Linked DNA regions of Homo sapiens: region 2 is linked to region 1. Evidence: fine-mapped expression QTL. A gene starts in region 1. The other region holds a variant in brackets. All regions are shown on one strand. Distances are from middle to middle.

Evidence for each region.
Region 2: its variant is fine-mapped to the expression of MRPL38 in whole blood (TOPMed, PIP above 0.99).

What each region holds. Positions count from the first base shown.
Region 1 is chr17:75,902,170-75,907,520 of GRCh38, forward strand. It overlaps MRPL38 (mitochondrial ribosomal protein L38), which reads right to left and starts at 2,715. Exons shown (of 9, transcript NM_032478.4): 1 at 2,640-2,715; 2 at 2,371-2,550. The coding sequence starts at 2,706. RefSeq lists silencers at 2,511-2,560, 2,581-2,630, 2,641-3,120.
Region 2 is chr17:75,853,884-75,859,251 of GRCh38, forward strand. It overlaps WBP2 (WW domain binding protein 2), which reads right to left and starts at 1,452. Exons shown (of 8, transcript NM_012478.4): 1 at 1,356-1,452. The coding sequence starts at 1,414. RefSeq lists enhancers at 1,538-1,667, 2,276-3,071 and a silencer at 2,038-2,207. The variant C/T (reference allele first, on the strand shown) is at 3,019.

The sequences.
Region 1 (5,351 bases):
GTGTGGGAAAAACAGGGTCATGACTCACTGCAGCCTTAACCTCCCCAACTCAGTCTCCTGAGTAGCTGGGGCTACAAGTGTACACCATCTCATCTGGCTAATTTTTGTATTTTTTGTAGAGACAGGGTTTTGCCACATTGCCCAGGCTGGTATGAACTCTTGGGCTCAAGTGATCTGCCTGCCTCAGCCTCCCACAGTGTTGGGATTACAGTAGTGTGAGCCACTGCGCCCAGCCATGGTAGCTAATTTAAAAAATCTGAGAGATGGGATCTCATTATGTTGCTCAGGCTGGTCTCAAAACTCCTGGTCTCAAGTGATCCTCCTGCCTCAGCCTCCTAAGTAGCTGGGATTATAGGCGCAAGCCACTGCACCCAGTGAGGGGGCGGGCACATCTTCTTGGTTAAACTGCCTGTCCCTACCTAGTCCTCTCATTCTGTGCTTCAAGCTCTGCTGCTCAAGCTTTCCCTGTGATTCACAGAATTAAAACATACTGTGCAGTCTACTTCCCAGACCTGAATAGGATGTAACTGGGAAGCAAATCAGATACAACTTGAGGTTGTGTTTTTCTTTGAGACAGAATCTCACTCTCTCGCCCAGGCTGGAGTGCAGTGGCGCGATCTCGGCACACTGCAACCTCTGCCTCCCGGGTTCAAGCAATTCTCCTGTCTCAGCCTTCTGAGTAGCTGGGATTACAGGCGCCTGCCACCATGCCCGACTAATTTTTTTTGTATTTTTAGTAGAGACGGGGTTTCACCATGTTGGCTAGGCTGGAGGCTGTGTTTTTCTGATCCCCAAACCAGGTCACAGTTTTGTCTAGGTCATGGGAAACTGAAGTCAATGGTCCTTCCAATTATAGTTGAGATCACCTCCAAGCCTGTTCACAGGTGGCTATGAACACCCAGCTGTCCTAGGTAGAGTGAATGACTGATGCTAGAAGGACTTATAGAAGTGCTTCTCGGCCAGGTGCTATGGCTCACGCCTGTAATCCCAACACTTTGGGAGGCTGAGGCAGGGGGATCACTTGAGGTCAGGAGTTTCAGACCAGCTTGGGCAATATGGTGAAACCCCATCTCTACTAAAAATACAAAAATTAGCTGGGCGTGGTGGCGCATGCCTGTAGTGTCAGCTACTTTGGAGGCAGAAGCAGGAAAATCGCTTGAACCCAGGAGGCAGAGGTTGCAGTGAGTCATCGCACCACTGCACTCCAGCCTGGGCAACAGAGCGAGCCTCTGCCTTAAAACAAAACAAAACAAAATAATAATAACGAAAACATACTGAGCCCTCATCAGAGATGGCATTAGGCAAAAATGCCAATGAATTGCCTCTTTTAATCCTCACAGCAATTTTGTAGCAAAGACACAATTATTTTATTTTACAGTTGAAACAAGCTCAAGGACATTATCCGAGAGGCTGAGCTAGGATTTAAATCGGGCTATTTAGATTCCACGCTTGTGCCTTTAACCACCACAAAACTGCCTCTATAAATGCTAAAGAAAAGAAAAGAAAAGAAAAGCATATACTCCATAAATTGTAAGTTCCTTAAAGGTTGGGGTCTTTTTTTTTTTTTCTTTTTGAGACGGAGTTTCGCTCTTGTTGCCCAGGCTGGTGTGCAATGGCGCGATCTCGGCTCACCGCAACCTCTGCCTCCTGGGTTCAAGCGATTCTCCTGCCTCAGAGGCCTCCCGAGTAGCTGGGATTACAGGCATGCGACACCACGCCCAGTTAATTTTGTATTTTTAGCAGACACGGGGTTTCTCCATGTTGGTCAGGCTGGTCTCGAACTCCCGACCTCAGGTGATCCGCCCGCCTAGGCCTCCCAAAGTGCTGGGATTACAGGCGTGAGCCACCGCGCCCGGCCAGGTTGGGTTCTTTTTTGAGTCACCCTGCCCAGGCCTTTAATTTCATTCAGCAAAGTATTGCACATGTACATCCTTGCACTGTTCGGGTGCAAGGATCCAATGGAGGGCAAGACAAGCAGGATCCCTGTCAACAGGGCGCTTACAATCTGGGGAGAGGCAGCGCACAGTCAGAATGCAGTGTGGCCAGAGTTACCTACAGAGTATTTGAGGCGCACAGAACGGCATCCCAATCCGGAAAGTCAGGTGGTCAAGATTTTAGGAGCAAATATTTTAGGAGCTGGAACTCTAATAGTAGGGGGAGCGAATTTTCCAAGAATGAGGTGCAGAAGGTGTGAAAAATCCTGGGGTGATTAAGCTGCCGATAGCGCACACAGGTCTGCAGGCAGGCCCTCCCAGCGTCCCCAGCATCCACAAGGGCGCCGGCAAGGCTCGCCCAGCGCCCGGGGAAAACGCCGGCGGGTCCCGAGTTCCCCGGGCGGTGGCTGCAGCCCCTGCTCCAGTCGCCCCGCACCTGTCTTCTCCCCGAAATACTCTCGGTAGGTCCGCCACCAGTGCGGGGCCTGCGCCTCCTGCTCTGCTCGGCGCCGGTAGCGGTCGAAGCTCCGGTACTTCTCCAGCCGCTCCAGGTTGCTCAAGTCGATGTCACTGTTGGGCATCGGCCCCAGCGGGGGTGTCCGGCGGCCCAGGACGGCTGCGGGCAGAGAGAAGACGTAAGGCCGGCGCCCCACAGCTCGGGCGACAGCCCCCCCCCCCCCCCCCGCAGAGCTGCCCACCCCTCACCCGAGGTGCTGAAGCCCCGCCATCTCCGACACTCGCACAGCGCGGCTCGCCACCAGGGCGCCGCCATCTTCCCTCCGGCCTGCGACACTGCGGCCGCCACTAGGACCCGGGCACAGGTGGCCAGCGCGGTGCCTGAGCGCACCACAGCAGGCCCCGCCCCTAGGCCCGCCCCCGGGCCCGCGCTGCGGAGCAGGCCTCAGACGCCTGTCCCGGAGGCCCCTGCACCGTCTGCCTCGGGCGCAGGTGGAAGGTGGCCGCGGTCTGTAGACGCCCGGCTCCGGAAGTGCCCGTTGGACGGCGGGGCGGAGCCGAGAGCAGTCATATGCTCGCCCATGGCTGGCCACCAGGGGGCGGCACAGACCGGGGTCGGCCGCCGGGGCCCTCCTCCAACCCCTGGACGCTGCGTCCTGATTTCCCCAGGGACGCAGGCCTGGTTGGGAGAAGGGGTGCGAGCTCCGATTCCGGACTCTGCTTGGGTTTAAAACCCAGATTGAGGGCTGGGCGCGGTGGCTCACGCCGGGAATCCCAGCACTTTGGGAGGCCAAGGCGGGTGGATCACGAAGTCAGGAGATCGAGACCATCCTGGCCAACACGGTGAAAACCCGTCTCTACTCAAAATACAAAAATTAGCCGGGCGTGGCATACGCCTGTAATCCCAGCTACTCGGGAGGCTGAGGGAGGAGACTCGCTTGAACCTGGGAGGCAGAGGCGGAGGCTGCAGTGAGCCGAGATCGCGCCACTGCACTCCAGCATGGGCGACAAAAGTGAAAACTCTATTTCAATAATAATAATAATAATAAAATAATAGTAATAAAAACCCAGATTGTGGCTGGGCGCGGTGGCTCATACCTGTAATCCCAGCACTTTGGGAGGCCGAGGTGGGCGGATCATCTGAGGTAATTAGTTTGAGACCAGCCCTACGAACATGGCAAAACCCTAAAGATACAAAAATTTTTGTATCTCTACTAATGATACAAAAATTAGCCGGGCGTGGTGGCAGGCGCCTGTAATCCCAGCTACTCAGGAGGCTATGGCACAAGAATTAACTTGAACCCGGGAGGCAGAAGCTGCAGTGAGACGAGATTGCGCCACCACCTCGGTGCCAGAGTGAGACACCGTCTCAAAATGCCCCTCCCCCCCCCCAAAAAAAAACCAGATCGTGACCTTACTGTCTTCCTTGTGGTTTCCTCATTTGGGAAAAAGCAGGTTAACACTAGTGCTTACCTGACAGCTGTCAGGATGAAAAGATTACCCTCTGGAAAGCGCTCGCAGTGGTTTGTGTGTTAGCTCAACTATCTCCAACTTCTCATTATCCACACAAAGGCAGAAGTGACCTGGTTAAGTGCAGATGTGAATGTTTCTGGCAGGACTCAGGCTTGCCCTTGTGATCCAGTTCTACCATGGCAAAACTTGGTAGCCTGGGGAATCTGGGACCCTCCTTTGCCCCAGCCCTGGCCCTCCTGCCCTAAAAGGCAAGACTTTTCCATCGCACTTTGCCTCCAGGCCACGGGGCCTTTGTATACGCTGTGTCTTCTGCCTCTCACCTCCTCACTGCCCCACCTTGGCCTGGCCACCACCCAGCCCCAGGAGAGGGGTCTCTCCAGGAAGCCTGCTCTGACATCCCAGGCCAGGGCTGGTGGTGACCAGGCCAGTGGCTCTGGCACCAGCAGAAGCTTGACCCTCACAATCACTTTGAGATGGAATGAGAATGGAATGAGGGTCTCTCCATCCAGCAGGAAGTGGCCACACCTTCCACTGGTTTTCATAAACAGCAGCCAAACAGCTAAACCTTTCACAGTCATTTCTAATCCACCCAGCAGTGTGCACCTGCTACATGCTAAGTGTGGAGGGGAATACGTGGGGCAGTCACACCCAGTCCTGCTCGTAAGGAGTTGCTTATTGTGACATTCCATACTGCAGTTATGCAGTACAGGAGCATAACTGGATTGTGTGTTTACATCGTGGCTGTTTTACCTTGTCCTTTTTTTTTTTTTTTTTGAGATGGAGTTTCTGTCGCCCAGGCTGGAGTGTAGGGGCACGACCTCGACTCACTGCAACTTCCGCCTCCCAGGTTCAAGTGATTCTCCTGCCTCAGCCTCCCGAGTAGCTGGGATTACAGGCATGCACCACCACGCCTGGCTAATTTTTTGTATTTTTAGTAGAGACTTGGTTTCACCATATTGGCCAAGCTGGTCTCAAACTACTGACCTCAGGTGACCCACCCACCTCGGCCTCCCAAAGTGCTGGGATTACAGGTGTGAGCCACTGCACCCGGCCACCTTGTCCTTTTGTTTCTGAATCATTTTCTTCAGCCTCTAAACCCACCCGCTCTACCCCACGACCCTCCCAGCCCTCTCCAGATGAAGATGTATGGGGCCTTGGCAGTTGGCGTGGAAGCTGCTGGCCACCCAGGTGGCGGTGCATTCCTCCATTCTTGTCCTCTTGCTGTCCTAGAACCCTGATTGGCGCTTGCTTGGATATTAACAGTTTGAGAGAGGCTTCACGTGGATTCCCACGTGTACCAACTTGAAGCAAATAACGATGAATATCTTGAAACTAGAAGCAGTGGCTCTACCATTTTAAAAAAATATATGGGGGTCTCACTATGTTGCCCAGGCTGGTCTTGAACTCCTGGGCTCAAGCCATCCTCCCACCTTGGCCTCCTGATAGCAGCTACAGGTGTGTACCACTGCACCAGTTTTTTTTTTTTTT
Region 2 (5,368 bases), 48 kb before region 1:
AAATACAAAAAATTAGCTGGGTGTAGTGGCGGGTGCCTGTAATGCCAACTACTGGGGAGGCTGAGGCAGGATAATCGCTTGAACCCAGGAGGCGGAGGTTGCAGTGAGCTGAGATCGTGCCACTGCACTCCAGCCTGGGCGACAGAGCAAGCCTCCATCTAAAAAAAAAAAAAAAAAAAAAAAAAAAAGAGAAGAGAAGTACTGCTCAGAGAAAAGAAGGAATTACCAGCAACAGGCTGGGCCCATGAAACTCTGAGCGGGTAAGATAGAGGGAAAGTGAGCATGCTGGGTCACTCTAGGCATTTTCCTCTGACTCATCAAACATTCCCAAGTCACAGGGCAGCTGGATGCTGGCCTTAGCTGGGTACAGGGCTCTGACTCCACGATGTCTCCTTTGGGGACTCAGGTGCCTCCTAAGCTCCTTCTGCCTTCAAGAGGCAATTCAGGGTCGGCATAGTTCAACCCAGGGCTGGCTGGTCTGATTTTCAATACCCAAGGAACAAAAGGAGACAGAGGCCATTTAAGGCTTCTCTTGGCAGAGACTGGAGGAGAGACAGGATGCAATGAGCAAGGGGTGGGGAGGATGGAGTGGAAAGAACCTTGAATTAGGAGAGCTCTGCCTTCCGAGGTGACCCAAACCAACAGGCATTCAAGAGAGAGGCAAGGGAATGACTACGGACCCACACAGTGCCAGGAACTGTTAGACACCTGACAAACGTCATCTGTTTAATTTCACCTCTGGGACCTCAGTTTTTTACCGGGAACCTGAACAGTTCTGGAACATACTGGAAGCCTGTATGCTGGTGGTTAATCCTATTAACTTTGGAGTCAAGACTCCTTTCCTGGAATTACCACCTCTGTTACTTACACAGTTGCGATCTCGGGCAAGTTACTTAACCTTTCTGCCCTCCACTTTCCCTACCTGTGAAATGTGGACAGTAGTAGATTATACTGCACAGAATTTATTAAATAAGGTAGAAAAGGCGCAGAGCCTGACACGTAGTAACGTTGTAGACATCCAATAAGTGACAATTATTTTTGTTTGGGGCTCCTCCCAGCTACTGAAATCACAAGTCTGGGAAGGGGTTCAAGAATCACCCCTAGGCCCCACCGGGGGCCCCATACCAGGTCCCCATGCAGACGTCCCACCCCCGCCTCCCAGCTGATCACAACCTCCCGGGCTCTCCCCCACGGCCCACCCACCTTCCTCCAACCCCGCCCCCAGCCGTTCCCCACCAACCTCACTCCATCAGTGCTCCCTCTTCAGGGGCTTATTCCCCACCACCCACCACCCACCGCCCACTTCCTCGACACCCGAACTTTGGTCCTCCAGGATCCTTCCGCAGTGTTTTCACCTCTCGGTGTTATTGACGATCACTCCGCCGCCCTCCGAGTGATTCTTGTTGAGCGCCATAGTCTCTCCAACAGGGGTCCCGAGACTCAAAACGCAATGAGCTTGCGCCCCTCTTCGCCCCGCCCCTAGTGGCGTCTTCTTATTAGAGTCAGCCAATCAAAGCTCGAGTGCGGAGGCTGGCCCAAACACCTGACCCGAACGTCACGTGGTAATAGTTTACTCCCTCCTTCCAGTTCCTCCTGCGCAACAAACAAGATGAAGACTACAATTCCCAGCAGGCAACGCCCCCGCAGCCTCGGCCTGTCCCTATGCTGGAGGAAGGATGCATTCTGGAACTTGTAGTCTCCTGGATCATAGGCCTGAATTGGTTCCACATTTTGCGTAACCAATCGGCTTGTGCCATCCCCACCCCGCCTCTTCAGCCGGACGGAAATAAACAGTTCCGCTCCTGGCAGGGGCGCGATCTTGGGGACTCCGGCAGCGCGTTAAGGGAAGTCCTGCTGGTCGAATGCGACCTGGACATGGCGTGGGAGCGCCGAGCTGTCCCCTTGTGGATGGGGAGCTTTCGTTCACTCAGCAGACGTTTATGGGGCGCATGCGTGACTCTGGGGCGTTTAGCTGAGCCGGAGGCCCCGGCTCTTGGGGACGCGGTGGGCTGGCGGCGTCGGATCACCCCGCCATCCATCTCACCACTCCCAGCGCTGAGCCCGGGGGGCGGGGAGAGTCCCTCATGGGAAGGGGAGGCCGTGTGCCCCGCCTGGCTCCCACCACGTTCGCAGGCCGGCCGGGCGCCCCTCGCAGCCCCCTCTCCGGCCTCGCGGTGGCGCCGCTCCCCCCTTAGCGCCCAGCGGGGTCCCGGCCGGAAGACTGAAGGCTGAGTGGGACTGGGCACGGCGCGAAACCGGCATCCTGATAACTAGGATTTACAGAATAAGGCTGACTCCTGTCAGCTCGTGACCCAGCCCTGGGCGTCCTCCACGGGGCAGCTGTCATTCCCTAACCGCCCCCCACCAAACCCCTGCACCTCCGAGCTGAATCCGTGAGGCGGAGAGAGGGGGCTGCACTTCCCACGTGGTAGTTCCGGTACTCGTTAATGTTAAGGAATTAGAGTTTGCTTTTCAGTAGACAGCTGCTTTCCTGACTGTGGTGGCCAACCTCTAGATCCACCTGCTTGACTTCGCTTTCCAGGGAGGTCTCCTATGTGAAGAAACAAAGCTGCCTCACTAGAAAAGATCAGGAAACAGCAGCGTTCTGTGAGGTCCTGTGCAATACCAGGTTGGACCTTGCGGGACAAGTACAGTGGGTTAAGGATAGTCATAATGAAATCTGCCCCAATGGTTAGATGTATTTTGGCGCCTGCAATCTCTGCAGTCTTTAAAAAGAATTAAGTCAGACTATGTGCTGATATGGGAAGATCATCAAGGGTTATTAAGCACAGAATGCTGTATACATATAGTTGTATTTGTATAAAAAATAGGATCTAGATAGAAAATTTTTGCAAAGATCCATCAGAAAATGTCTGTGGCATTTTTGAGACATGGGTCTAGGAATTTGGGGTGGATTGGTGACTCGGTATGTCAGTATGCATTGTACTCTTTGGTACTGTTTAATTTTTTTTTCCTATGTGCGTTTAAAATATAAATTTAGGCCGGGCGCGTGGCTCA[C/T]GCCTGTAATCCCAGCACTCTGGGAGGCCGAGGCGGGCGGATCACGAGGTCAGGAGATCGAGACCATCCTGGCTAACAGAGTGAAACCCCTTATTAAAAATACAAAAAAAAAAAAAAAATTAGCCGGACGTGGTGGCGGGCGGCTGTAGTCCCAGCTACTTGGGAGGCTGAGGCAGGAGAATGGCGTGAACCCGGGAGGCAGAGCTTGCAGTGATCTGAGATTGCGCCACTGCACTCCAGCCTGGGTGACAGAGTGAGACTCCATCTCAAAATAAAATAAAATAAAAATAAATAAATAATATGTAAATTTAAAAAAGAAAAGCAGGCCGGGGTTTGTGGCTCACGCCAAAGGCGTGAGCCAAATTCCAGCACTTTGGGAGGCCAAGGCAGGTGGATCACCTGAGGTCAGGAGTTCAAGACCAGCCTGGCCAACATGGTGAAACTCCATCTCTACTAAAAATACAAAAATTAGCCGGGCATGGTGGCGGGCACCTGTAATCCCAGCTACTCGGGAGGCTGAGGCAGGAGAATCGCTTGAACCTGGGAGGCAGATGTTACAGTGAGCCAAGATCATGCCACTGCATTCCAGCCTAGGCGACAGAGCAAGACTCCATCTCAGAAAAAAGAAAAAGAAAAGCAAAATCCAGGCCTGGTGCCGTGCCTGTAATCCCAGCACTTTGGGAGGCCAAGGTGGGTGGATCACTTGAGGCCAGGAGTTTGAGACCAGCCTGGACTACATGGCAAAATCCCATCTCTATAAAAATACAAAAATTAGGCCGGGCGCGGTGGCTCACACCTGTAATCCCAGCACTTTGGGAGGCCAAGGTCGGCGGATTACCTGAGGTCAGGAGTTCAAGACCAGCTGGCTAACATGGAGAAACCCCGTTTCTACTAAAAAATACCAAAAACTAGCCGGGTGTGGTGTTGTGCGCCTGTAAGCGCCTGTAATCCGCGCGCCTGTAATCCCAACTACTCGGGAGGCTGCGGCAGGAGAATCCCTTGAACCTGGGAGGTGGAGGTTGCAGTGAGCCGAGATCACGCCATTGCACTCCAGCTTGGGCAACAAGAGCAAAACTCCATCCCAAAAAAAAAAAAAAAAACGCAAAAATACAAAAATTAGTTGTGCATGGTGGCGTGGTTCCTGTAATCCCAGCTAATAGGGAGGCTGAGACATGAGAATTGTTTGAACCTGAGAGGCGAAGGTTTCAGTGAGCCAAGATCGTCCCAGTGCACTCCAGCCTGGGCAACAAAGGAAGATTCTGTCTCAAAGAAAAGAAAAAGAAAAAAAGGAAAATCCCCCCAGCAAAGAGCAGGCAGCATTGGCTGCTCTAAGGACCATAAATGGGAAGATGGGGACAACCTGCCCACCCCTCTCCCACCCCTTTGCCAAATACGTTGGAGACAGGAGCAAGTTCAGGTTTTGCCAGGCCTTGAAGCTTATACAATTTTGGAGGCTGTCTTGGTTGTTTATGTTTTTGTTTTTTGAGACAGGGTCTCATTCTGTCACCCAGGTGCGATCATAGCTCACTGCTTCCTTGGAACTCCTGGACTCAAGTGATCTGGAGGCTCTTTTTAAGAAATAAAATACACAGGCCGGGCGCAGTGGCTCATGCCTGTAATCCCAGCACTTTGGGAGGCTGAGGAAGGTGGATCACCTGAGGTCAGGAATTTGAGACCAGCCTGGCCAACGTGGTGAAACCCCGTCTTTACTAAAAATACAAAAAATTAGCTGGGTGTGGTAGCGGTCACCTGTAATCCCAGCTACTCGGGAGGCTGAGGCAGGAGAATCGCTTGAACCCTGGAGACGGAGGTTGCAGTGAGCTGAGATCAAGCCACTGCACTCCAGCCTGGGCAACGAGAGGAAAGCTCTAACTCAAAAAAAAAAAACAACCCCACAATTATTCATTCACAATACTGTGGCTACAGTGAGGCCTCCTGACAGGAGGGGAAATGACAAGAAGAGGAAGTTGCAGTGCAGAGATAACAAGCTTGACCAGCTCCGGCTACAATGTCCAGAATTTCTAAGTTTTACAAAAACATATGACCATGTGAACACACTTCCTGGGCGGCTCCCATGACTTTGGGGCTGGAACGTACCAGAACTCAAAACTCAAACCGAAGACTTCAACAATGGTTTATTGCTGAACCAGGTGAGCAGCAGGAGGCTCCCCTGGGCCCAGGTCTCAGTACTCAGACCTCTCCTCTGGCCTCATACTCCTGTCTGCCTGTCTCCAGATCTCTTTTTCACTGCAGTATGATGCTCATATTCTCCACACTGGAGCACATCTTAGCGGTGCGCTAAGGAGGAGTGCAGGTTGGCCTCAGATACCAGCAGGCAAGGTCTGGGGCA